Regions from separate parts of the Homo sapiens genome. Here all the other regions are reported to be linked to region 4. Evidence: microRNA targets listed by miRTarBase, many of them from high-throughput screens and not tested one by one. Region 4 holds a microRNA gene; each other region holds the end of a gene's coding sequence.
What was found. The annotated mature microRNA hsa-miR-485-5p reads AGAGGCUGGCCGUGAUGAAUUC and lies in region 4 at 2,236-2,257, opposite strand. An mRNA with a match to its seed (bases 2 to 7 or 8) in the 3' UTR can be bound and repressed. Matches are read on the target gene's strand: a 7mer-m8 pairs with bases 2 to 8, a 7mer-A1 pairs with bases 2 to 7 and ends in A, and an 8mer does both.

Region 1 (3,097 bases), not on the chromosome of region 4:
CACAGTCCTGAATGAGGAATGGATGTGCGCATCCTAAAGGAGAAACGAGATACAGATCCATTTGCTTGTCTGTTTTGCAAGCGGGAAATCTAGTCTCCATTTGTCAAGAACCTGAGGGAAATTCCTGTAGCTGGCAGGTAACTGTCAGGAATTTCAAGGCTGAAAATTTTACTTTGCTGACATTTTACCTCTTGACATTTGCATTCTTTTTCTCTCTCTTCTCTCTACCCCAGGACTGCTTCACCAGTTTTTCTACTGGCTCCTTCTTTGAACTGGATGGACGTCCATTCTGTGAGCTCCATTACCATCACCGCCGGGGAACGCTCTGCCATGGGTGTGGGCAGCCCATCACTGGCCGTTGTATCAGTGCCATGGGGTACAAGTTCCATCCTGAGCACTTTGTGTGTGCTTTCTGCCTGACACAGTTGTCGAAGGGCATTTTCAGGGAGCAGAATGACAAGACCTATTGTCAACCTTGCTTCAATAAGCTCTTCCCACTGTAATGCCAACTGATCCATAGCCTCTTCAGATTCCTTATAAAATTTAAACCAAGAGAGGAGAGGAAAGGGTAAATTTTCTGTTACTGACCTTCTGCTTAATAGTCTTATAGAAAAAGGAAAGGTGATGAGCAAATAAAGGAACTTCTAGACTTTACATGACTAGGCTGATAATCTTATTTTTTAGGCTTCTATACAGTTAATTCTATAAATTCTCTTTCTCCCTCTCTTCTCCAATCAAGCACTTGGAGTTAGATCTAGGTCCTTCTATCTCGTCCCTCTACAGATGTATTTTCCACTTGCATAATTCATGCCAACACTGGTTTTCTTAGGTTTCTCCATTTTCACCTCTAGTGATGGCCCTACTCATATCTTCTCTAATTTGGTCCTGATACTTGTTTCTTTTCACGTTTTCCCATTTCCCTGTGGCTCACTGTCTTACAATCACTGCTGTGGAATCATGATACCACTTTTAGCTCTTTGCATCTTCCTTCAGTGTATTTTTGTTTTTCAAGAGGAAGTAGATTTTAACTGGACAACTTTGAGTACTGACATCATTGATAAATAAACTGGCTTGTGGTTTCAATAACTCATTGTCATATTTGTTTGGGAGATAAACTTTCTGCTTCCCGTGTTATATACTAGGCACTATGTACAATTAAGATTATATCATACCTCGTTTCCTTCCATCCAATGCACACTTTAAAATTTTTAATCAGAAGAAATTAAAAGGAGGGTCTCCTTTTCACTAATTTTTCTTTTTTTTCTTTTTAGTTTGGTCCCATAACCATTTTATTTTCTAGACTTAGATGATTGAATCATTTTTAAAAATGACAAAGCTTCTTAAAATTGTTTTTATTACTTTGTTTACAGGAGGAGAAACCCTGGCTCTCCATTAGAAACCTTACAAATTCATTTCTTTTTCCTTTTTTTTTTTTTCTGAGATGGAGTTTCGCTCTTGTTGCCCAGGTTGGAGTGGAATGGCGCGATCTCGGCTGACCGCAACCTCCACCTCCTGGGTTCAAGCAATTCTCCTGCCTCAGCCTCCTGAGTAGCTGGAATTACAGGCATGCGCCACCACACCAGGCTAATTTTTCTATTTTTAGTAGAGATGGGGTTTCTCCACGTTGGTCAGGCTGGTCTCAAACTCCCGACCTCAGGTGATCCACCCACCTCGACCTCCCAAAGTGTTGGGATTACAGGCGTGAGCCACTGCGCCCAGCCACAAATTCATTTCTAAAGTAAAAAATGAAACACAATTTCACATTTGCCTCCTGAAGACAAATGAGATGGCTGTTCTTAGAGCATCTCTGAAGAAAGATGCTATAAATAAAGCTCAAATGATTATTATCTAGAATTAGGAAAGCCAAGACTCAAAGAAAAATTCCTCTTAATCATTTGTTCATCTCAAAATATTATAAGTAAATGTTTAGAAAAGCTTGTCAGGTTATCAGAGAATCTGATTTTCTTATGTCCTGTCAGTTTACTGTCCTACAGTTTACTTTTTATAAAAGTAAGCTTCACAAGGACTAATCTTTCTGCAAAAGGGATATTGAGAAGATCAGTACAATATCTTTCTTCCCGTGGTCTTAAAAATAATTGTGTGATTATTTGTTATAACAAAAACCAGACTCTTAGAATCCTTGATTCTGAGATAAGTTACTGGCGAAAACTCCTTCACTGGAGGTATTTTTAAAAATAGGACAAAATTTGATGTCTTTAGATTGATAGAGGAATAGTACTACTTGGGAGAGCTGAAATGGATTAAATGTTTCTTGCCAAACTTTATTATATCTATGTCCTTTGTTGGAATGGATAATAAGGGGGTTGTGAGAGTTACAAGGAATTGGCAACAGTTAATTCTATAAAATAGGAACTCCAAATGCATGTAAGATATGTGGGAGGCCACACAGATACGGAACCATCTGGCCTCTATCCTGTTTGGCTGTCTGAGAGCGCCAGACTATGCAGAACACACATTCAACTTTTAAACATCCTCTTTGCAATGTCTTCACTCAACGATGTCACACGCAGGTGTTAATATGGCAATGTTCTTGGTTGCCTTGGCAATTTGACAAAATAAACTTGGAGTTTTAGCCCTTAAAAAGAAATGTACAGGTGCTAAAACTTTTTTAAAAAGGATTAGCTATTTTGAGATTCAATAGAATTTAACTATTTTTAAATGTCAAAGAAAATCCAGAGTTCACTAAGATGTAATTAAGAAGTGAAAACACTTTCTTCCCACATTGAACGGAAGTGGTTTTATTTGCTCAAAAAGAGATACTGACTTCAGGACCAGTGTTTTAGCAATAAGGAAACTACTCACAAGTAAAAAGTTCTGCTTTTTAAAAACCCTGGAAATGCCATTACTAAAATTGATCACGTACTTATTTACTTTTGGTTTTGAGTAACTTCTAGGATGTTTAAAAAATAAAACCCACCCTCACAGGACAGGGATTTTCCACCAGTGAATATAAACATATAGAAAGGAATATGCTCTAGAGTTGGCACTGTATTCTCAAAGGGGAGTCCCTCAATTAGTTTGGTCAGTTTTTCTTTGAAGTAAATTTAGTCTCTTCCAAGGTAATACTTTGATAAAG
Region 2 (3,097 bases), not on the chromosome of region 4:
GTTTCTTCACTAGCTCATGAGCTCCACGAGGGCAGGCAGCTTGCCTCTGTTGCTCACCACTGTATCAGCATCACCTAGGATGGTGCTTAGCACATACTGGAAACTCAGTAAATACTCAGATGAATGAATGGTGTCTGGAATTGTAGAAAGGGGTGTTTTGGAGGAGGTACCTCCCTGAGAAGGAAGAGCAAATATTGGCCAGGCAGAGAGGGGTGTTCACTCCAGGAATTAGGAAGCAGTGGGACCTGATGGTCACATTCTGATCTCTGCCCACTCTCCAATTATAGGTGAGAGTCTGGTTCCAGAACCGCAGGGTCAAGTATCAGAAGCAGCAAAAGCTGAGGGCAGCAGTTACATCTGCCGAGGCTGCCTCCCTGGATGAGCCTTCCAGCAGCTCCATCGCCAGTATCCAGAGTGATGATGCCGAGTCAGGAGTGGACGGCTGAAGACTGGGACAGAGGCCCTAGCCAGGCTGCCTGGACTAGTTCCTCCTGGGGGTACCCACTGGAGCTCCCTGCCTCACACCTCAACGAAAAGCCTCCTCAACCAGAAGAATCTGAGCTGTCAAGCAGGGACCCCCTTTTCTATACTGATTCCTGGAAACTGGAATAATGTAATGATTGGAGGCACAGACTCTGGCCTTCAGCTATGTCCTTGGCCAACCTATGGAACTTCCGAGCCTTTTTTCTTTATCTGTATAATGGGTGCATTCATAACTTAGATCACCCAGGGGTGAGAAGATGTCTGTAAAGCAATAATGTGCCATGCACAGTGCAAAGTGTGTGGTTACTGTTAAGGCTTGTAGGCCCCTGAGTAGAGAAGACCAACTGGAAAAAAAAAAGTTTTTTTCTTCTGCTGTCACCCCACAACAATCAACACAGAACACTTCTGTGACCAAACGTATAGGGGTGTACCCCACATTCCAACCTCCAGTTCAGCAAATTCTGACATGATCTACCTGCAGGTAGTGTCTGACCCCACAGATTCAGGGCTCATTCCACATGGCAGCCCCTCCTTTCTTTTTTTTTTGAGACAGACTGCAGTGGCGCGATCTTGGCTCACCGCCACCTCCGCCTCCCGGGTTCAAGCGATTCTCCTGCCTCAGCCTCCCGAGCAGCTGGGACTATAGGCGCATGCCACCATGCCTGGCTAATTTTTATATTTTTAGTAGAGACGGGGTTTCATCATATGGTCAGGCTGGTCTTGAACTGCTGACCTTGTGATCCACCCACCTCGGCCTCCCAAAGTGCTGGGATTACATGTGTGAGCCACCACCCGGCCCAACCCTGCCCTTTTTGTTTTTTATGGAGTCTTAAGGTCTACCAGTCATCAGTCAACTCATTAGCATATGAAAAGACATCACTTCAGAGATTCTAGGGATTTTAGGAGTTCTATGCCAGGAAATCGAGATGAAGACCAAATATATATTTCATAATATCACAGCTCCCCTCACCTGGGGGAGTAATACCTGTACCAGCAATTAATATTTTCCTGGCCTGGCTGTGGAGAAGGAACCTCTTTGAATAAGCATCTGGGCATAGAAGACTCTTCACCATCAGAAGGAGTTGAGAGCAAAGAAGAGAAGGTAGACTGTTTAGCCCACTTCACAAAGTTTCCCAACGTTTTCTTGTTTTGTCTGAACTGTTACCATTCTCAGAAGAAGCTCAGGCCCAGCAGCAAAGACAAGGACTCGCTCTGTCACCCAGACTGGAGTGCAGTGGTGCAATCATAGCTCACGGCAGCCTCAACCTCCTGGGCTCTAGTGATCCTCCCACCTTAGCCTCCTAAGCAGCTGGGACTACAGGCGCGTGACACCACGCCTGGCTAATTTTTAACATTTTTTGTAGAGACAACGTCCACTTGTTGCCCAGGCTGGTCTTGAATTCCAGGCTTCAAGTGGTTCTCCTGCCTTGGCCTCCCAAAGCCCCATCTTTTTATAGAATAATTTGTGTATGCCAAGGCTGGCATTTTGTCATAAACTCTGCTGTGTTTTCACAGGACAGTTATAATTTCCCCCTTTCATGACTCTGACTCATGGCTCCTTTTTCTTCTCAAGAATGTGCTCGATTTCTCTGAAAGAAGCCTGCTGCCAGGATTTGCAGAGCTGATTTCTGTAGCACAGACCATTCAGATTCTAGAATGGCTCTTGGGGACTGAGCTGAGGGATGGAAGGAAGCCTGCCCTGCCACCTGGTGGTGAGTGAGGGCACGGCCCCCAGCTGCTCTCGGGTAGGTTTGCCCCCAAGTACGTGGACTATTCGCTCCCTGACACCGGGCTGCAGGCTTGAGGGGACCCAGGGTCGGTTTCAAGAGCCTCTTCTCTGGCCCTGCCAACTATCTATCTCCCCCAAGTCCGTGGACTATTCGCTCCTTGACACCAGGTTGCAAGCTTGAGGAGAGGCAGGGTCAGTTTCAAGAACCTTTCTCTGTCCCTGCCAACTATCTATCTATCTATAATTATTTGATAGATAATTGTGGCTTGATCACGGCTCATTGCAGTCTAGACCTCCCCAGGTTCAGGTGATCCTCCCACGCATCACCACGCCCGGCAAATTTTTCTATTTTTTGGAGAGACAAGGTCTCACTACGTTGCCCAGTCTGTTCTTGAGCCCGGGAGCTGGAGGCTGCCGTGAGCCGAGATCGCCCCATGCCAGTATGGGCGACAAAGCGAGACCCTGTCTCAAACAAAACTCACAAAATCAGGGGACAAGGAAACAAAACAAGGCTTGATAGTCAGGCCTAGCTGTGGGGACAAATGCCATAGGTCTGTGGTTTGCAGCTTCTTGGGGTCCTGAGAGAACAGGCCCCTCCCCCTTTTCACGACAGTGTGTGCATATGCACACTCACTTCTGTATCCAGTTTCAGAGGTTCTCAGATCTGAGGTCCCCTATGGACTCCTCCGCTACCCCCGGTTGCAAGGTCCCTAAGCCATTGAAGAATCTGACAGAGGCACAAGTCCACCCTGACCTTTGGCAGGACTGTTCTGCTGCCAGAGGGATTACCGAGAAAGGAAATCTTGTCCTGGACTCTTCAAGTGGGGTGAGTGAGCTCCGGGGTATAAGCTAGTCCTTCCCTTCAGGCTGAGAGCTAGACAGGAT
Region 3 (3,097 bases), not on the chromosome of region 4:
CTGTTTTTGTCTAGTCAAACCCAAAGTTTGTATATTGCCATTGGTTGTCCCAGTATAATAATCTCAGGTAGGCAGGTTACTCTTCCAATGTGTAGTTCCAAATTTTTTTCATCAAAGTAGTCATTTGATTTTGTTCTGTATGTTGCATTTTTTCTGTCTCTAGAGTTTGTCATACCCCTACTAATCCTTTTTATCTCTTTTCTTTCTGATTTCTAAAAGTCCTCCATTTTTATCTTTCATTTCTTTTAGGGCATATCTGTTGTTCATCAGCTGTTGTTTATTCTAGTCTTAATTTATGAGTGATTTTCCTCTATTACTAACATTTTCCCAAGTTCTTCAATTTTATTTTTGTTGTTCTTTCATATCTTGTATCATTTTCTAAATGTCTTAAAACTCAATTTTAAGTACTACTCTATAGCTTCTATCCATTTATGGGCATGCCTTTCTGGTGTGCTTTCAATGTCTACAGGGATGTTATTTTCTTCCTTATACTCTTTTTTTTTTTTAAACAAACTTGCATGATTATAGTTTCACGTTATTTTTTTTGAAGTCAGCTTCTCTGAGCTTTTAAAAGGAGGCTTAGTTCAGGGTAACTTTCCTAACATCACAGATATTCCATTTTTGTTGTTTTTATATAGTGTTCAAAAATAGGACAGCTCGCTTTCTGAAATTTTCCTGGATCTTTTAAAATAAATGACAGATACAAAGATGGGTAAGATATGATACCAAGAGAAATAACAAAATATAGCAAACAAATATTTTTTGCCCAAAAGCAAACTTCACAGTCCATAAAGGCCTATGCAAATAAATAAAACACCCCCTCCAATAAACAACCCTTTTAATAAAATGTGTATTAATTCAAATACAAATGCACGACTTTTAAAATGGAATTTAGTAGCCAGTTCTATATTGAATAATTGAGTTCTGCACATTATGAAATAGGATATAAAATATAATCCTAAACTGGAAGAAAAAGACTTCAATGTAAAAGTTTTCAGATGAAAATATACTTTATAAATGAATCTTCATTCATGCCAGTACATTCCTTAGTATTACTTAGTAATACTTCCCAGCTCTTTAGGAGGCCGTGGTAGGTGAATCACTTGAGTTCAAGAGTTCAATATCAACCTGGCCAACATGGTGAAATCCCGTCTCTACTAAAAATACAAAAATTAGCCAGGCATGGTGGCACACGCCTGTAGTCCCAGCTAATTGGGAAGCTGAGGCACAAGAATCACTTGAGCCCAGGAAGTAGAGGCTGCAGGGAGCCAAGATCGCACCACTGCACTCCAGTATGGGTGACACAGCAAGACTCTGTCTCAAAAAAAAAAAAAAAAGGTATTAATTATGTTCAATGGGATACTGACATTGTAATTCCATGTAGAAATATTCTTTTTTGATATATCCTCACGTATTTAGAGTAAAATGACATCTTATCTGGGATGTGCTTTAAACAAAATAAAAGGGAAAGAAAAGAAACAAGTATGGCAAAATTTAATGGTAATTAAAGCTGGTATATAGTGGTTCATACATATTTTCTCTTTCAATGAATACTTAAAGCTTTTTATAATAAATCACCCTTTCAAAAAATGTTCAATACATATTGATATCATTTGGATATCTGTCCCCTTCAAATCTCATGTTGAAATATGGTCCCCGATGTTGGAAGTGGGGACTAGTGGGAGATGTTTAGATCATGGGGGCAGATCCCTCATGAATGGCTTGGTGTCCTCCCTGCAGTAATGAGTTCATGTGAGATCTGGTTATTAAAAAGAGTCTAGAACTTCCTTCTTCCTGCTCTCTTCCTCTCTTTCACCATGTGATATGCTCACTCTTCTTTACTTTCCTCCACAAGTAAAGCATCATGCTTCTTGTACAGCTACAAGCCAATTAAACCCTGAGCCAAATAAACCTCTTATTTTTAATAAATTATCCTGCCTCAGGTACTCCTTTATAGCAATGCAAACAGACTAATACACATATCATTGACAATGTTTATTATCAAGAAACTTTAGGTTTTTTAAAAGAATGCTCGTTTTAGAATACACCAAGAGGACACTCTGTGACAGGACATATACAAACAAGGATAATTAAAATATTAAATACTATCTAAATTAAAAGACCATAATTCAAATTGCTAATTATAATATTTGTGTCGGTAGAAATAACTATAGTTCCCCTTCATGAAATTCACCCCCACGTTCTCATGAAGACTATGACGTCTCACCACAATTTCAGTTATTTAATTTACAATAATCAATGCTGAGTTTTCTGTGCTGAAGCATGCACTGTTACAGAAAGCACAAAATCCTATTTACAGGGATTTTTAGTTTTCTTTAAAATGTATCTCAAGCATCTTTTAAAGTGCGAGCTACAAATAGGTTGTATCCTTAATGAAAAAGGCTTCTTTCTAAAAGAAGTATGAGATAGCTATCCAATACTGCAGGAACAGTTATATAACTAACCGAAGGAACCAGCAGCACTCTGCTAACTCTGTTTTAGTGTAGCAACCTCCTTCTTGGTGTTCTACTACCAGCCAAACATGTACTCCATTGCTTTGGATACAAGACTTTCATCTTTTTTTGGCGTTTGTCTGTCAGAAATAACCTATTAAAAAACACACACAAAAAAAACGGTTAGGTTATTGTTACTTCAGTGTCATAGGCAATTCTAGAATTGCTCATTTAAAAGAGAAACACCAAAATGCATTTATAGCACTAAATTGTAAATTTTTGTATTTTTAGTAGAGACGGGGTTTCACCGTGTTAGCCAGGATGGTCTCGATCTCCTGACCTCGTGATCCGCCCGCCTCGGCCTGCCAAAGTGCTGGGATTACAGGCATGAGCCCCTGCGCCCGGCCTGAATTGTATATTTTTAAAATTAAAATATGGACTTAGAATATCCTTATGCTTTTAAGAATGCCAAAATTTTATTCCTTTGGCAAAGCAAATAACATCTGTTTCTTAAATTAGAAAATTGAATAGCTGGGCGCAGTGGCTCAGGTCTGTAATCCCAGCACTTTGGGAGGCCAAGGTGGGCAGATTACTTGAGGTCAAAAGTTTGAGACCACCCTGGCCAACATGGTCCCATCTCTACT
Region 4 (3,097 bases):
AAAATAGTCCAGGTAAGTAAGAGCTACATGGAGAAGCCACATTAAGACAGCTAGTGAAAGCCTCAATGCAAAAAACAGTGGACAATAGCTATAAATTTCTGAGAAAAAACAAGTAGGCTGAGACTTTTATACCTAGTTAAGCTGTCCCTTGTGCATAAAGAGATATATACTCTCAAATGCACAGGAACTCAAGGGTAGTGTCTATGAGCTATTCTCACAGAAACAATAAGATCATTTCCATTGAGAGATAAATTAAACTTAAAAACTAAAGAACGGAGAAACCTCAGTTAAAAAAAAACAAACCTTGTGGTCAGAAATGAATTCATTTAAATATAGAACTATGGCAAAACACCTGCAAGAATTATAGTTCTAGAACAAATTGCAGATATTTATAATGTAAAATTAAAATGTATAATTGAGAAAAAGCAGGAGATAGTAAGCAAAGGAAGAATAAGAATGCTGACTTCTTTATCTTTCTGAACTAGGAGTGAAATTGAAATAGTTAAAAACCATAACAATCCTAACCACTTAATTTTTACACTCTAATTTTTCTTAATTTTACAGGGATCTTTTAGGAGTTGCTACCTGTGGTGGTAAAGCGAGAAACATTTATCAATCATTTCAATCTCCTTTAGCTTGTTTTTTATGATAAATTCAAGGAAAATTATAGTTAGCATTTTTAATAAAATGATTAGGTACAGTGTGATCTCATATTTTCCCTGCGTCTGTCTTGTTTTTCTATTTGCATGTATGCTCAGACAGGTGTATGAAATTTCTAAAGCCCTTAATGGTTATTTCTGGGTGCCAGAGAATTGGGCAATTTTCCTTCTTTTTCATTTAGATTTTTCCACATCGCTTGAATTTTATTAAGCATGTGTCATTTTCATAAATATGGTAATAAGGTAGAATAATTATCCTTTTTGAAAAGAAAAACAAGAAATTGAAAATGCAACTGTCTTCTGTTCTTAAATTTGCTGTGGCCTCCAGATCAACAGATGTGGTGAGTCACCCTTCCAGTGAGTCCCCAAGAATGCTGAAATCAACGCCCCTTCCCTGAATTTGTCAACATGTCTAAGAAGTCCTTCCTCCATGGTAAGATTTAATAGTGAAAGAGAAGAGAACTATACATTGTTTTTCTTTAAAAAAAAACACAAAACCCCAGAAGCATCATGGGCACCACCACTTCCTCAGTCACAGAGGGGTCTTGAGCACAGATCACATGCTTCTTCCCCAGGAATGCACTGGCTGAGGATTAGGAGTGCTAGCAGCACCTACCCATTGGTTCCAGGGCCACACACATGTTCAGTTGCACTGGTGTGGAACCAACATGAGTATGGTGTCCCCTAAATCGGCATCAGGTCCAAGAAGACACCTGGTGAGATCTGATACCGAAAAGAGGTCGACCGTGTATTGGGCATCATTAAATAATGCGAACTCACCACGGACAACCTCCCTCCGAGTACCATGAGGTGGCACTGCTCGCAGCATTCCTGCATCTTCTGCACAGCCTGGGCAGCTTGGGAGTGGCCTCTGAGGGTGGATGGGACCCTGAGGATGAGTGGACCAGGTGGCTCAAACCCATGCTCTCCGGCCAACCCCAGGTTCACCAAGCCAGGATTAGTGTGCACAGAAATACCACTTCTTGTGCTCAGCTGGCCATGCAGGCAACATTTAATAATGCAAGGATGTCAGTGGCACAGGAGTCATTAAATATGAAGCAAACCACACACAAATGTGTGTGCAAAAGCAGGCTAAGCACTGCCTCCTTGGTAAACCTGGGATTCCCTTACAGGAATTCTCTGGAGGGTGTAAGGCTGCTGTGGGTTAGTAAACCAGGGGTCGCACAGAGTCCTGTTCCTGTTTTCTTCTGTATCCCGACGGCTGACTAATAAAAGATGCTTCTAGATGCCCAAGATTCAACTCCAAGGTTGAATTTGATAGGAATAAAAAAAGAAGTCAGCCATGTGTATTTCAATCTTAACTTTTAAAAAATTAGGGCATCCCAACAACCTCTCTCGATTTTCCTAAAGTTGGTAGTGCCCCAGGAAGTTGTTTTAGGGTCAGCTTGGACTCTAAAGTTAGTAGGTCAGTTACATGCATCCTCAGGAAAATGCTTGCCATGGGGTCAGCCATCCAGAAACCTACCTTGGAAGCAGCACTGGCTCAGGAAGCCCTCCGAGGCAGAATTTGACACTAAAAGAGAGGAGAGCCGTGTATGACTCGCTTTGATGAATCGAATTCATCACGGCCAGCCTCTCTCCAAGTACCACACATGAACACTGGTGAGAAATCCATTGCCTCTCTGGCAGAGGTGGCCGCCCTTCTCGGGAGTCCTGTTAGGAATGGGTGGGATAGTATTGGGTAGTGGGCCGAGCCGAGTGACATACACCCACATTAAGTGCATGCTCACCCGAGGCGCACTTACCTTAAGGGAGTGCTGAGGGCACTGCCTTCTCCCCAGCAGCAAGGATGCAGTTCGTCCTTCCAGACAAGACAGGGAGCTTTTGCGTAGCTCACTGGTCCCTGACAGGAGAATCATGGCCGCTTCCCAAAGCCGCATTATCTCCATGGAGCCTCCTAGGGAGAGACAGGATGCTGGGTATTAGAGGACGACGTGACAGACCTAACAAAGGCAGCACATGCTCTGGGAAGAAGGATTCAGTCACACACCCAGGAGAAAAGCTGGCCCACATCAGGTCCCTCAACAGAAGACAACATGGCGTCCCACATCGGAAGTCAACACTTCAAGGAGGCTGTCACAGTGGTGAAGGGGCTGCCAAGGCTGACTCATTGCATTTTAAGTAAACATACACCCCCAAGAGCACGTGTCATCGCAGTCCACCAAGCAGTCACAGCAAGTCCATGGCCGCTTCCCCAGAGTTGGTGGGAGCTCTGGAAAGTCTTCCTGGAGTGGGAGTGATGCTGAGGGTTGGTGACTAGGTGGCCCACAGGGTGAACACAGTGCATGCCCCTCTGGTCAACCAGTCACACACCCTGGACGGTGCTGACACCAACATCTCTTCTGGAAGTCGGCCTGGGGCCCAGGGAGCCTCTCTTCAAAGTCTTGTGAGGTGACGCTGGTGACAGAACCACAGCT
Region 5 (3,097 bases), not on the chromosome of region 4:
TTTCAGGCCAATACCCCTGATGAACATCGATGTGAAAATCCTCAATAAAATACTGGTAAACTGGCCGGGCACGGTGGCTCACGCCTGTAATCCCAGCACTTTGGGAGGCCAAGGTGGGTGGATCACAAGGTCAGGAGATCGAGACCATACTGGCTAACACAGTGAAACCCTGGCTCTATTAAAAATACAAAAAAATTAGCCGGGCGTGCGCCTGTAGTCCCAACTACTCGGGAGGCTGAGGCAGGAGAATGGCATGAACCCGGGAGGCAGAGCTTGCAGTGAGCTGAGATCATGCCACTGCACTCCAGCCTGGGCAACAGAGCGAGACTCTGTCTCAAAAAAAAAAAAAAAAAAAAAAATACTGGCAAACTGAATCCAGCAGCACATCAAAAAGCTTATCCACCAGTCGGCTTCATCCCAGGGATGCAAAGCTGGTTCAACATACTCAAATCAATAAATGTAATCCATCATATAAATAGACCAATGACAAAAAACACATGATTATCTCAATAGATGCAGAAAAGGCCTTTGATAAAATTCAGCACCCCTTCATGCTAAAAACTCTCAATAGATTAGGTATTGATGGAACTCATCTCAAAATAATAAGAGTTATTTATGACAAACCCACAGCCAATATCATACTGAATGGGCAAAAACTGGAAGCATTCCCTTTGAAAACCGGCACAAGACAAGGATGCCCTCTCTCACCACTCCTATTCAACATAGTGTTGGAAGTTCTGGTCAGGGCAGTCAGGCAAGATAAATAAAGGGTATTCAAGTAGGAAGAGAGGAAATCATATTGTCTCTGTTTGCAGATGACATAACTGTATATTTAGAAAACCCCATTGTTGGCGGGTCACAGTGGCTCACGCCTGTAATCCCAGCACTGTGGGAGGCCGAGGTGGGCAGATCACGAGGTCAGCAGTTTGAGACCAGCCGACCAACATGGTGAATCCCGGTCTCTACTAAAAATACAAAAATTAGCTGGGCATGGTGACGCACACCTGTAATCCCAGCTACGCAGGAGGCTGAGGCAGAAGAATCACTTGAACCTGGGAGGTGGAGGTTGCAGTGAGCCAAGATCGCACCGCTGCACTCCCGCCCGGGCAACAGAGCAAGACTTTGTCTCAAAAAAACAGTGTAAAACCAACCAACCTCCTACTATTTTACTCAATGTCTAATCCAACCAAAGGCAGAGTGGGGAGAGTTTGACTTTCTGGCAGGTCTATCCCCACACTCCAACAGACAGTTAAGGGCAACATGACTGTTCCCTGGCCCAGCTGGGGAGAGGACTTAGAGCTGCCCTGGATCCTTCCTCCCAACTTTTTGAAGTTCCAGGGAGATTTCAATGACAGCAGAAGCCATGCAAGTCCGAGTCCCTCCAGTTTCTTTCACGCAACAACACATGAAAGTCTCACTGAGCTAAGGTGATTTTGTTTTACTGAGATATAACTGACATACACTAAAAGATCTAACCCTACTATGTATCGTTTGTGTGTGTGCGCGAGTGCATGCAGACGAAGCTTTTTTCTCTCAGGATAATTCTTTTCAGAGACCTGCCTCTGCAAAGAACTGGCCGCATGGTTCCCGTGTCTAGTGTTCCATCTATGAAATAGGGCAGTTCCTCCCACCTTTCCCACCCCAACAGGTTGTTGGAAGAACAAAGGAACTCAAAATGACCTACGGTGCTCAGTGGTCCTATGCAGACGGAGGCACTGAGGGGTAACAGCTAATCCTGCTAGGGCTCAACTCCTCTCAGGATGAAGGCTTTTGAAGAATCTGCTTTTCTCTATTCAGTCAGAGGCACCCCTTCTAGCCCCAGTCATCACCGGAGCTGCAGCAAGCCTGTCAGTTTTCTCAGAAGTCCAATTTAAAACACTACACGTTCAATGTCTGTGTACTCCAAGAAGGGACTCATGGTGGAGCTGCGAGGGTTACTGGAGTGCCGGAGAAAGCCCAGCCCTGCTCACCTCCTCCAACCCCAGGGCTGACTCCAGCCTACCCTGCCCTCCCTGCAGTCTCTAAAGCACACAGGAGAAGGAACCACAAGACTGAGCTGAACTCCAAGTACAAACTTTATTTCTATTACAAGGAAGTTAATAATTATTATAACAGTAAAATAAAAACAAGGGGAAGGGGCTCTGACACTTGGTTTTCAGAGCAAGTGTGGGGCTGGGGCAGAGCCCAACATACCTGCTGTGGGGACAGGGAGCCCTCAGCCCTCCCCATTAGAAAGCAGTGAGGACAAAAGATCCATGCTCCCCCGGGAACAGAAGGCAGTGATGCCAAATGCCAAGGAAGCAGCTTAAAACACAGCCCCCGGTCCACTCACCTCCAGCTCAACACATCAAAAGCCTCGTTACTGACAGACATTGCAACTGGCCTGAGCACCTTACCAGAGCGCCTCATACACACCTGGGGCCCAATCGAGTGTGGACAGACGCAGTACACGGAGAGGTTGCCCAAAAGCCCCCAAATTTAGGCCCCAACAGGGCAGAGAATCACCTTACTGGTGGCTACCAGGTTTCCAAAATCTTCCCCTCCTTCCACTGGGACCACACAGCACCAAGGGGCAGTGGCGACAATAAGTCAAAAGGGAGCCCTGGCAGCCGAGGCTGCAGCTTGTATTTCACTGCTGCCGAAAGGTAGCAGCTAAGGCTGAAGCGTTCCTCAACCGCCACCCTGCTCCCTTCCCTCAAACCCAAACCCCCACAGCACAACCTCAAAAGACACAAAATGGCCATAACCTAGAAAAATCTAAAATCTGGAAAAACTCTCCCACCCAAAGAGCCAAAGAGGTGGGCCTGCACAGCGGCAAGTGCTGCTGTGCACAGAAGACAGGAACCGATGTAAAGTCTCTGGAGACACCATTACTCCTCCTCTTCCTCTTCTGCATCCCCAGCTCCCTGTTGCTTGGAAGGCTTTGCCTGGTGAACAACACAACACAAACGAAGCTTTACATAAAAAGTGAAAAAGCATTACTCCTCCCCTGGATCCCCGAAAATGTCCCGCTTCCTTAGAAACCTCCTTCTCAAAAGCCAAAGGAACAATCTTTGAACCACAACCAGCCTGGTCCCAACAACTTCTACAACTTCAG
Region 6 (3,000 bases), not on the chromosome of region 4:
GCAGCATGAAAGTACCTAAAGACTGCCCATAAAACAGGAACAAAGAAAACAAAGCTCAGTTTCACCTCCAGCCAAAAAGGAGTCTTCATGACCTATCAATATGTAAGATGAATACAGATCATGCTGACTTTCCTCAGAGAAAAGTCTAATAAAAAATGTCCTTATCAATATCTGCTTGAAATCTAGTTTATATGGAAAATGGAGAGCATAATACACTTCAAAATGCTACTAGTATCTACTACAGTGCTTATGTCCTATAAAATCCCTATGGACAAAAACAATTTTACCTGTGAATAAAAATTAGAAATGAAAGAGGTAGGTGACTATCATTTGAAGATAATCCCAAAACAACATGTTGAATAATATGCTTGAGTCCCCAAAGAGCTCTTTAACTGGACAATGAGTTCCAACATCGGTGCAATTTCCTTAAGAGCAGAGTTTCCCAGATATTTCATGATGTCTTCAACCTTTCAATGCCCCAACTCCTGATACAGTGCCACACTCTTCAGACATTTAATATTAAGAAATAGCTAATGAAGTAAAATGTAAAGAAGTAATACTGGAGACCAAAGGGTGAGGTGATGCTGAAGTCAGCTAGGCTCTTCAAAAATCTATACCCTAGTATAGAGGAAAGCACATTTGAGCTGGACAGGACGTTAGAGATTCATCTAATCCAACTCTCTGGTTTTACAAATGAAGAAATAGAAGCTTATTTTTTCCACTGGCTCACAAAACACTAACATCCTGAAAAGATGCTATAAATCCACAGTTAACTTACTTAATTAGTCAATGATGTAGCCAAGTGGCTATATTTTCAGCCCTTATCCCTGTGGGCTGTTTTATAAAGTGAGCCACTGGTAACAGAGAAGCTGACCAAGGCCCTAGATGCACCTGGGGGCAGACTGTCAGCAAGAGAAAAACAATTTGAAATGTCAGACATGCCCTATTAAAACTTGTTCTAGGCTCAGACGAGGGTTCATTTTCCCTTCTTTGTAGGAGACACACATCTGAGCACGTTCACAAACTCCAGCTCTGCTAGGGCAAGCATTGGGGCAACAATACTATTCTGCCCAGAACACTTACAACTAACACAGATGGACAACTGGAAACCTCCAAACCCGCAGGGGCAAGACCTACACATAGCTATCTTTAATTTCTCAATAATTGTCAGTCACTTGTTTTGCAAATCAAAAACAAAAAAAAAAATCACTGGTTTTGCTTCACAGCCTTATTTATCTAAGATTTTTAAGTCTCACATTAAAAAGTGGTTGTAGGTCAGATGTGGTGGCTCATGCCTGTAATCCCAACATTTTGGGAGGCCAAGGCAGGCAGATCGTTTGAGCTCAGGACTCTGAGACCAGCCTGGGCAACATGGTGAAACCTTGTCTTTACAAAAGAAAATACAAAAAAATAGCTGGGTGTGGTGGCACACACCTGTGTGTGCGTGTGTGTGTGTGGTTCCAGCTATTCAGGAGGCTGAGACAGGAGGATTACCTGAGCCTGGGAGGTTGAGGCTACAATGAGCCATGATCACACCACTGCACTCCAGCCTGGGTGGCAAAGCGAGACTCCAAAAAACAAAAAGTGGTTGTAAGTGATTTTATTTTTTCTTTTCTATTTTCCAGTGTTTCTGTAATGCTTTCATATTTCTTTTGGTAGTTAGAAAATAAAGGCTAATTTTTAAAAAGAATATCATAGTCTAAAAAATTAAAGGATGCATAGAGTTCCCTCTTGACTATGTGACATCTAAACTGAATGAACTGTCTGCGTGGCACAGTGGAACAGCGCAGTCTCAGGATTCTGACAGATTTTTGGATCCCAGCTCTACCACTAACCTTGGGCAGGATTTTAGTCCCTCTGAGACCTGCTTTCTTCACCTGTAAAAATGAAAACAATAATACCTACCTCACAACATCCTGTAAGGATAAAATGATGCACAGTGCCTGACACATAGGTGTCCATAAATATCAACCCCTTCTCCCTATACTCCACAAAAACCCTTGAGTAAAAGGAATCACCACAGCCTGTACCAGCCACTTGCCATCCCCCTCACTACATTCACCTTTTAAATTTGCAAGGATCCTGTCTCCTAGATTTTGCGCTATTGCTTGAAGAGTTGCTATTGTGCTTAGAAAAGTATCTACATTTTATGTTCTCTTTTACAACTGTACATGCAGATAAAACATTTCTTAAAACTATCTTCCCATAAATGATAATGCACATTTCCTAAAGCACATATCATGTATAAAAACAATTCTGAAAAATAAGACTGAATTAATTTGTACATTATCTCTTAAAGTGCACCAAAGTAAATAGTAATGACCCTTAAAATGTCGCTAACCTTCCTGGGTTAGTTTTTAAAATAAAACTAAATATATATTGATTGAGATGTTTGGCTCCAATGTGATGGTAAAAGCAGCAGTGTCTTCCAGAAAAAAAAAGTCTTGATAAACTCAAATAAGCATACCTTAGCAGCACACGAAACACCTACAATTCAATGTAACTGCAGGCTCAATAAAGCACAATCCTGATTCCCACTATGAAAACAAAATCAATCAAGGAAAAACCCCAAAACCAAAAAAAAGTCTCCTCACCCTAAATTGAGGATTTCTATTGAACCCTGGAGGTAATATTTGTAATCACTTTCCTATTATTTATTCTTGGTAACAGAACTATAATTACCATTCTTTCTTTACACTGCTCACACACATACATACACAAACCCTATAAAAAAAAATAAAGTGGAGAGGCTATGAGAAAGAGAATTCAATGTCAATAAAGAACAAGCATCACCCAAAATGTCAGCCAGTTCCAATATTCACACCACCGTCCGATGTTCCCCACACACATAGACAGCACTAGGACGTATCCGTCGCTTTGTGTGACCAGGGAGCTGCGGCAAAAACTTGAAGGACTTAGGCATCATGTCCAGGCAAGCATCATGGAATTTCTTAATCCTCCAGTAGTAGATCAGCGGATTCAATGCAGACTTGAGGTAGC
Region 7 (3,088 bases), not on the chromosome of region 4:
GAAACCATACAAATGTGAAGAATGTGGCAAATCCTTTAAGTTGTTCCCATACCTTACTCAACACAAGAGAATTCATAGTAGAGAGAAACCCTACAAGTGTGAAGAATGTGGCAAAGTCTTTAAATTGTTGTCATACCTTACTCAACATAGAAGAATTCATACTGGAGAGAAAACCTTCCGATGTGAAGAATGTGGAAAAGCCTTTAACCAGAGCTCACATCTGACTGAACATAGGAGAATTCATACTGGTGAGAAACCATACAAATGTGAGGAATGTGGCAAAGCTTTTACCTGGTTCTCATACCTTATTCAGCATAAGAGAATTCATACTGGGCAGAAACCCTACAAATGTGAGGAATGTGGCAAAGCTTTTACCTGGTTTTCATACCTTACTCAACATAAGAGAATTCATACTGGAGAGAAACCCTACAAATGTGATGAATGTGGCAAAGCTTTTAACTGGTTTTCATATCTTACTAATCATAAGAGAATTCATACTGGAGAGAAACCCTACAAATGTGAAGAATGTGGCAAAGCCTTTGGCCAGAGCTCACACCTTTCTAAACATAAGACAATTCATACCAGAGAGAAACCATACAAGTGTGAGGAATGTGGCAAAGCCTTTAACCACTCTGCACAACTTGCTGTACATGAGAAAACTCATACCTGAGAAAAACCCTACAATTCTAAACAATATGGCATAGTCTTTAATACCTATTCACAACTTCACAGCAGAATATTTTTACTGAATAAGAGTGTTACAAATGTAATGACTGTCAAAAGGCCATTTACAGTCTATGAGCCTTTGAGTGCACTAAAATGTTTAGGCTACGAACAATACAAATAGACCGGTTCAACACCTCCACTTATATCACAGCTCTTACTGTACACAGAAGAATTTATACTGGAGGGAAACCCTCCAGTTGCTCAAACTGTATTCAATTTCAAAGACTTTGTATTGGAGAGAAACCCTACAAATGTAATAAATGCAGAAACAACATTTGTTCAAAAAATATACCTCAGAAAACACCAGAGTGTTCACACTAAAAACTGTTTTACAGATGCAGTAAATGTGAAAAAATGTCTAATCAAAAATTACATCAAAACACATCCAAGAATTCATAGTAAAAAGCACTAAGTCACTGACACTTTCAGACATTACTGTAAATCTGAGTGTTGGTTATAGAGAATAATTCAAAGTTAAGTTAAAGTAAGTAGGAGATTCACCTTTTGGGGAAGTTATAATTACATTTCAAGTATACCTTTTGGTGCCAGGCACGGTGGCTCTTTCCTATAGTTGCTGCACTTTTGGATGCCGAGGTCGGGGGATTGCTTGAGCCCAGGAGTTTGGGACCAGGCTGGGCAACATGGCAAAACCTCATCTCTACAAAAAGTAAAATAAAAGCCAGGCTTGGTGGCACATGCCTGTTGTCCCAGCTACTTGGAAGGCTCAGGTGGGAGGATTGCTTGAGCCTGGAGGTTGAGGATGCAGTGAGCTGCTATCTGGCAACTTCACTCCTGCCTGGGCAACAGAGCAAGACCCTTTCTCAATAATAATAATAACAACATAATAATAAAGTATACTCGGTGCACTGAAAGAGTTTTAGCTTTTTTGAAAATCACATATTTATGTAATTCAAGTCTTAAATCACTTGATACCATGCCTTCATTTCTAGTGTTTATGTGAAGGCATGAGGCCTACTGTTGCTACATGAAAGCTGTGAGAGTTTCTTCTATATTCGGGTGGGTGTTGTTCATATCCTTTTCTTTGGAAGATTATGGACATTGCATTGTAAGCTTCCTGAAGAAATTTAACTGGAGAGGCTCTTTGTACTTGTCTTATAATAGGGTTGTAAGTGATTCATGAGATAGGTCTTCAGAGTACTATTCTGCATTATATTTAAGAAAGAAACATTTGAGTTTTACAAGTCAGTTGTTTTTCCTATTGCACATTAAGGTAATAAAATTCAGTGGATTTTGAAATGCTCTTTTTAGACTGTTTGAACTTAATTTGTTTTAATAAGACATTGTTTTAATGTCTTTGGACCGTTGTACATTAAGTGATGCGTATCCTACCACCAACGTTAACCTATCTCACCTTAGTTACGGTTGTAGGTAACAAATGGTAACAATACAATAGTGGGTAACATGGTGGAATAGTATCTCTAATGATCCCTTCTCCCAGTGGCATTAAACTTCAAATAATTTGAAAAATATTGTTCCCACACGTTACACCTTCATTCTGTTTGCTCTTTTTGTAATGACAGTGTCATTATTAAGGCTATAATAAAGCCTATATAGGATTATAATCAAAGACCGTGTATTTCTGAATCTTGAAGGACTATTCACAAAATTTTATTTACATTTTCCTTTTAACATGTGGCTTTTCTGGCCTGCAAAACATATACATGCTTTTAGTTTTGGTTTACATGGAGATAAATACATAAATATACTACTCTAAGGATAAATGTTAGGTGTAAGACAGTTATGAAGCAAGTAATGTGTTTGAAGTAAGTGCATACCTGTTTTCAGAATAAGAGAAAAATGTTGGAACCAAACATAATTTCAAAAGTATGGATAATTTATTAGCAAACTAGAAACCTCAAAAATGTCGAAGGCAAATCTGTTTTCTCTGCTTTGTATTGAAGGCATTTCTCTAAAATCTTATTTTGCAGAATTTCCACATGAAATTCCTGTTTTTACTTTTATGTTGCTCATGCTAGAGCTAACGTATAATTTTCTTGTTCCAAAATTCATGAAGAATTTCTTATGTGATCTTCTCAGGGATTATAATAATGATTTTATGAAACTTATTGGTGCTTAAAAAATAATCTGAAGATGTGAATAATTCCACAGTGAGTGTATTAATTTTCATTGTACTTAATTAGTACATTTCCATTTTTCCATTATTAGAGAACACTATTCGAGCCAACTTTTTTTGTTATTGTTTCTTTCACTTAATTGAGTAATTGAGTTTATTGACTCTATTGGGCAATTTGTTCAGATAAACACTTTGGAGGCTTTATAAGTCATAGGGCTATTTGGCATATAAATGAAGTGAAGAAACATAACGCAGTGCCAGATGTGT

Region 1: the mRNA of LPXN is a reported target of hsa-miR-485-5p. The part of its 3' UTR that is shown has no 7-base or 8-base seed match.
Region 2: the mRNA of NOTO is a reported target of hsa-miR-485-5p. Seed matches in the 3' UTR shown: 7mer-m8 at 1,103-1,109 and 8mer at 1,740-1,747.
Region 3: miRTarBase lists NUP35 as a target of hsa-miR-485-5p. The part of its 3' UTR that is shown has no 7-base or 8-base seed match.
Region 5: miRTarBase lists TRAFD1 as a target of hsa-miR-485-5p. Seed matches in the 3' UTR shown: 7mer-m8 at 2,612-2,618.
Region 6: miRTarBase lists GPR63 as a target of hsa-miR-485-5p. Seed matches in the 3' UTR shown: 7mer-A1 at 1,510-1,516 and 7mer-m8 at 1,473-1,479.
Region 7: miRTarBase lists ZNF695 as a target of hsa-miR-485-5p. The part of its 3' UTR that is shown has no 7-base or 8-base seed match.

The regions. Positions count from the first base shown.
Region 1 is chr11:58,524,860-58,527,956 of GRCh38, reverse strand. LPXN (leupaxin) reads left to right here. Exons shown (of 9, transcript NM_004811.3): 9 at 234-1,086. The coding sequence ends at 503. Among named protein-coding and RNA genes, the nearest start is that of OR5B21, 18 kb to the right of the region's middle. RefSeq lists a silencer at 3,067-3,097.
Region 2 is chr2:73,210,484-73,213,580 of GRCh38, forward strand. It overlaps NOTO (notochord homeobox), which reads left to right. Exons shown (of 3, transcript NM_001134462.2): 3 at 288-2,030. The coding sequence ends at 446. Among named protein-coding and RNA genes, the nearest start is that of SMYD5, 2.2 kb to the right of the region's middle. RefSeq lists a silencer at 2,226-2,295.
Region 3 is chr2:183,160,564-183,163,660 of GRCh38, reverse strand. It overlaps NUP35 (nucleoporin 35), which reads right to left. Exons shown (of 9, transcript NM_138285.5): 9 at 1,981-2,607. The coding sequence ends at 2,530. Among named protein-coding and RNA genes, the nearest start is that of NUP35, 38 kb to the right of the region's middle.
Region 4 is chr14:101,054,587-101,057,683 of GRCh38, reverse strand. MIR485 (microRNA 485) reads right to left here and starts at 2,265; the gene lies at 2,193-2,265. It overlaps MIR134 (microRNA 134), which reads right to left and starts at 2,997; the gene lies at 2,925-2,997. It overlaps MIR668 (microRNA 668), which reads right to left and starts at 2,426; the gene lies at 2,361-2,426. MIR323B (microRNA 323b) reads right to left here and starts at 1,465; the gene lies at 1,384-1,465.
Region 5 is chr12:112,152,565-112,155,661 of GRCh38, reverse strand. It overlaps TRAFD1 (TRAF-type zinc finger domain containing 1), which reads right to left. Exons shown (of 12, transcript NM_006700.3): 12 at 2,058-2,927. The coding sequence ends at 2,871. Among named protein-coding and RNA genes, the nearest start is that of MIR6861, 9.2 kb to the left of the region's middle.
Region 6 is chr6:96,795,654-96,798,653 of GRCh38, forward strand. It overlaps GPR63 (G protein-coupled receptor 63), which reads right to left. Exons shown (of 2, transcript NM_030784.4): 2 at 1-3,000. The coding sequence ends at 2,819. Among named protein-coding and RNA genes, the nearest start is that of GPR63, 40 kb to the right of the region's middle.
Region 7 is chr1:246,984,549-246,987,636 of GRCh38, reverse strand. ZNF695 (zinc finger protein 695) reads left to right here. Exons shown (of 4, transcript NM_020394.5): 4 at 1-2,314. The coding sequence ends at 670. The region is part of intron 4 of ZNF670-ZNF695 (ZNF670-ZNF695 readthrough (NMD candidate)); the gene reads left to right. Among named protein-coding and RNA genes, the nearest start is that of ZNF695, 22 kb to the left of the region's middle.